Regions from separate parts of the Homo sapiens genome. Here region 1 is linked to region 2. Evidence: fine-mapped expression QTL. Tissue or cell type: Th2 cells. Region 2 holds a variant in brackets; the other region holds the start of a gene. All regions are shown on one strand. Distances are between the middles of the regions.

Region 1 (2,500 bases), 47 kb after region 2:
CAGTGAGCTGAGATCGCGCCACTGCACTCCAGCCTGGGTGACAGCGCGAGACTCCGTCAAAAAAAAAAAAAAAAAAAATCCTCTAATGGCATCCCCTAGGTAATAAAAACCCGGCTATAGAAGATATCCTACCCGATTCAAGCCTCCCAATCTCCTACTTGCCCGGCTTGCTCTTCTTCAAGAGCCTCCTTGCAAGTCCCCCAATAACCCAGATACCTTCCCTTAGGGTCCAGGCATTGGGTGTCCCTTTTGCCTGGAATTCTTATACTCAGACATCTCTACGGCTAATTTCCTCACCTCCAAATTTCTGCTTAAATGTCAAGTTTAACTGACCTGACAATCCTACACAGAACTGCTTTAGCCCTTCAGCCCTAGGACATTCCTATTTCCTTCTCCCACAGCACTTATCACTAATATACTATGAAATTCGCTTTTTTTTTTTTTCACCACAGCACTTATACTAATATACTATGAACTTTTTTTTTTCCACCACAGCACTTATCACTAATATACTATGAACTTCTCTTTTTTTTTCATTTTGAGACGGAGTCTCGCTATGTCGCCAGGCTGGAGTGCAGTGCGGCAGGATCTCGGCTCACTGCAACCTCCGCCTCCGCCTCCCGGGTTCAAGTGATTGTCGTGTCTCAGCCTCCCGAGTAGGTGGGACTACAGGCGCGCGCTACCATGCACGACTAATTTTTGTATTTTTAGTAGAGACGGGGTTTCGCCGTGTTGGCCAGGCTGGTCTCGAACTCCTGACTTCAGGTGATCCGCCCGCCTCGGCCTCCCGAAGTGCTGGGAGGCCGCCGTGCAGGGTCCTTCTTTTACTCTGACGTTGCAACAACAGCCTCGCCGCCCACTGTTCACTCGCAGTATCCCAAGAACTAAACCAGTAGCAACACAGAACTCAGCAAGCATTCGAATAAGTGAATGAAAGAATTAATGACGTTACTCCATACTTGGGCTTCACCACTTCGTCTAGCACAGCCGTTGTTAAAACAGGAAAAATGCAATCGCAGATGCCAGCAGAGGTCTGTTGGTTCAAAATTATAGTTTCTTTGGGCCAGCGGAAGTTGGGCGCGGGACCCAAGAGAGAGAACGCCCCTTACCGCCTCACCTCCTTCCTCCCCTCATCTTCCTATCTCAAACCAAAACGACAATGCAATTTATCCCCAACCGGAAATTTGACAGTGAAAGGGAGCTCTACTAATAATTGCACTGGGACAAGAAGTGTAAGGCGAAACTACCTGGGCAACCTCAAGCAATGCTTTACACTCGGCTGCCAAACGGAAAGGACCACTTCCGCCCAGCTCTCCCGCTACGGGGAGCCAAGTGCCACAGCATCCGGAGCGCCGACGCGGGACCGGAAGTGACGCAGAGAAGTTTCCGGGACTGGTGAGTAGTGGGCGATTTAAAAACCCGCGAGTGTAGTTGTGACCTTCGCGGTAGGTGCCGGTTGGGGCCGGCTGTGATTGTTATCTTGGTGCTGCAGAGGACAGCAGAAGAGGAGATTGGGTCAGAAAACTGCCCTGCCGCACCAGAGCACAGCGCACTAGTGGGACAGGGGTCCTGACTCAGACTTAACTGGCTGTGTCTCGTGGTTTTTCACTGTCCTGGAAAAGGCCTGAAGTGGCACTGAAATGAGGCATAGATGAGGTAACGTCGAGGGAGCGGTTTGCAGGTTGCAAAGGGGCCCTACTGATGCTGCTTAATAGTAAACAGTGCTTACTCTAGGACGGGAGTTGTTTCCAGCTTTACGTGTAAATCTCGCGATATTGTGGCCTGGGCACTATTTCCATTAAGGAGGAAACTGCACAGGATAAGTCATTTACCTGCTGTTGCACAGCTCTGGCTCTAGGATTCAGGCTGGCTTCAGAGTCGGTGCTCTTAACCGCCATACTATGTTGCCTTCTGTTGTCGTTGTTGACTGTGGCCATGTAGCTTCGCAGTTTCCTCATCTGTAACAGTAAATAACTCAAAACCTGCATGATGGCCCACTAGGGTTTCACTTTCGAGCTTGCCAGATGTAGAAAATGCTGGAGAATGGAGTACTATGAGGACCATTAGAAGATCTTTCAAGGCCGGACGCAGTGGCTCACCCCTGTAATCCCGGTACTCTTGGAGGCCGAGGCAGGTGGATCACTTGAGCGCAGGAGTTTGAGACCAGCCTGGGCAACATGGCGAATCCCCATCTCTACTAAAAATACAAAAATTAGCCAGGTGTGGTGTTTAGCGCCTGTAGTCCCAGCTGCTCAGGAGGCTGAGGTGGGAGGATCTGCTTGAGCTCAGGAAGTCGAGGCTGCAGTGAGCTGAGATCACGCCACTGCACTCCAGCCTAGGCGCCTAGTGAAACCCTGTGTCAAAAAGAAAAAAACAAAAACAAACTTCCAAGACCTCGAGTGGTTTTTGGAGACCCTGTATCACTTCAAATAATGTGTTAAACAAGCATCTTCATCTCATTAAATAGAAATGTTGAAAAATTGCTTTTGGAATAATTGAC
Region 2 (2,761 bases):
CCAGCTACTTGGGAGGCTGAGGCAGGAGAATGGCGTGAACCCGGGAGGCGGAGCTTGCAGTGAGCCGAGATTGCGCCACTGCACTCCAGCCTGGGTGACAGAGCAAGATTCCTCAAAAAAACAAAAGAAGTCTTAAAAAAGTCTCAAAAAAAAAAAACAAGTCTTAAAACATTCAAAAATTGGTATATACATGAGTGGAAAAAAGTTAATAGATACAGAATAGAGCACAAGCAGGATCTTAAAAAATGGTTTAAAAAGCCAGGCACAGTGGCTCATGCCTGTAATCCCAGCACTTTGGGAGGCTGAGGCGGGTAGATCAACTGAGGTCAGGAGTTTGAGACCAGCCTGACCAACATGGTGAAACTCCCATCTCTACTAAAAACACAAAAATTAGGCTGGGCGCGGTGGCTCACGCCTGTAATCCCAGCACTTTGGGAGGCCGAGGTGGGCAGATCACAAGGTCAGGAGATCAAGACCATCCTGGCCAACATGGTGAAACCCCATCTCTACTAAAAATACAAAAATTAGCTGGGTGTGCTGGCACATGCCTGTAATCCCAGCTGCTCAGGAGGCTGAGGCAGGAGAATCGTTTGAACCAGGGAGTCGGAGGTTGCAGTGAGCCAAGATCGTGCCACTGTACTCCAGCCTGGTGACAGAGCGAGACCCGACCTGAAAAAAAAAAAAAAATTAGCTGGACGTGATGGTGGGCGCCTATAATCCCAGCTACTTCAGAGGCTGAGGCAGAAGAATCACTAGAACCTGGGAGGCGGAGGTTGCAGTGAGCCAATATCGCACCATTGCACTCCAGCCTGCAGGACAGAGCGAGACTCCATCTCAAAAAAAAAAAAAAAAAAAAGAAAAAGGTAAAAAGAAAACAAAAAAGTGAAAAAAAGCGAGAAAAAAAAATGGAAAAAATTGAAATGATATCATGTATTTTCTGTGATCACAATGGAATAAAACTAGAAATCAAAACAAGAGAAATTGGCTGGGTGTGGTGGCTCACATCTGTAATCCCAGCACTTTGGGAGGCCGAGGCGGGCAGAGCATTTGAGATCAGGAGTTTGAGACCAGCCTGGCCAAGATGGTGAAACCCCATTTCTACTAAAAATACAAAAATTAGCTGTGCATGGTGGTGGGCGTCCATAATCCCAGCTACTCGGGAGGCCAAGGCAGACTGCTTGAACCCAAGAGGCGGAGGTCACAGTGAGCCAAGATTGTGCCACTGCACTCCAGCCTGGACAACAGAGCGAGACTCTGTCTCAAAAAAAGAAAGAAAAAGGTCAGGC[G/A]CAGCAGCTCATGCCTGTAATCCCAGCACTTTAGGAAGCCAAGGTGGGCGGATTACTTGAGGTCAGGAGTTTGAGACCAGCCTGGCCAACATGGTGAAACCCCATCTCAACTTATAAAATACAAAAATTAGCTTGGCATAATGGAGTGCGCCTGTAATCCCAACTACTCCAGAGGCTGAGGCAGGAAGGCAGGAGAATCACTTGAACCCAGGAGGTAGAGGTTGCAGTGAGCTGAGATCGTGGCATTGCACTCCAGCCTAGGCAATAGAGTGATTGAGACTCCAGCTCAAAAAAAAAAAAACCAAGAAGAAGAAGAAGAGAAACTTCAAATTATGATACATCTTAAAGAATTAGGTGCAGTGGGCCGGGCGCGGTGGCTCACGCCTGTAATCCCAGCACTTTGGGAGGCCGAGGCGGGCGGATCACGAGGTCAGGAGATCGAGACCATCCCGGCTAAAACAGTGAAACCCCGTCTCCACTAAAAATACAAAAAAATTAGCTGGGCGTGGTGGCGGGCGCCTGTAGTGCCATCTACTCAGGAGGCTGAGGCAGGAGAATGGCGTGAACCCAAGAGGCAGAGCTTGCAGTGAGCCGAGATTGAGCCACTGCACTCCAGCCTGGGCGACAGAGCGAGACTCTGTCTCAGAGAAAAAAAAAGAAAAAAAGAATTAGGCGCAGTGGTTCATGCCTGTAATCCCAGCACTTTGCGAGGCCGACACGGGCAGATCACTTGAGGCCAGTAGTTTGAGACCAGCCTGGCCAACTTGGTGAAACCCCATCTCTACAAAAACTACAAATATGAGCCCGGCGTGGTGGCACATGCCTTTTGTCTCAGCTCCTTGGGAGGCTGAGGTGAGAGGATCACTTGAGCCCAGGAAGGGGAGGTTGCAGTGAGCCAAGATGGTGCTACTGCACTCCAGCCTGGGTGATAGACTGTCAAACAAACAAACAAACAAACAAACAAAGATTAGAAAAGCAAGACCAAACCAAACCCAAAATTAGTAGAAGGAAAAAAATAATAAAGATCAGAGCAGAAAGAAATGAAATTGAAATGAAGAAAACAATACCAAAGATCAATGAAACAAAAAGTTGTTTGGGAAAGTTAAAAAAAATTGACAAACCTTTAGCCAGACTAAGAAAAAAGAAGGAAAATCCAAATAAATAAAATCAGAGATGAAAAAGGAGAAATTAGAATTAATAGTGCAGAAATTCAAAGGATGATTAGGGGCTACCGTGAGCAGCTACATGCCAGTAAATTGGAAAACCTAGAAGAAATGGATAAATTTCTAGACACATCCAACCTACCAAGACTGAACCATGAAGAAATACAAAATCTGAACAGACCAATAACAAGTAATGAGATCAAAGCCATAATAAAAGAGTCTCCTAACAAAGAAAAGCCCAGGACCCAATGGCTTTATTTATGAATTTTACCAAATATTTACAGAAGAACTAATACCAATCCTACTCAAACT

The links. PIP is the estimated chance that this variant, and not a neighbour inherited with it, causes the effect.
Region 1: it holds the start of PPIL3, and the variant in region 2 is fine-mapped to the expression of PPIL3 in Th2 cells (Schmiedel 2018, PIP 0.90).

The regions. Positions count from the first base shown.
Region 1 is chr2:200,887,997-200,890,496 of GRCh38, forward strand. It overlaps PPIL3 (peptidylprolyl isomerase like 3), which reads right to left and starts at 1,081. Exons shown (of 7, transcript NM_130906.3): 1 at 960-1,081. It overlaps NIF3L1 (NGG1 interacting factor 3 like 1), which reads left to right and starts at 1,375. Exons shown (of 7, transcript NM_001369441.2): 1 at 1,375-1,656. RefSeq lists enhancers at 161-905, 599-648, 717-1,916, 769-1,018, 906-1,650 and 1 more.
Region 2 is chr2:200,840,376-200,843,136 of GRCh38, forward strand. No RefSeq gene overlaps it. Among named protein-coding and RNA genes, the nearest start is that of CLK1, 23 kb to the right of the region's middle. The variant G/A (reference allele first, on the strand shown) is at 1,287.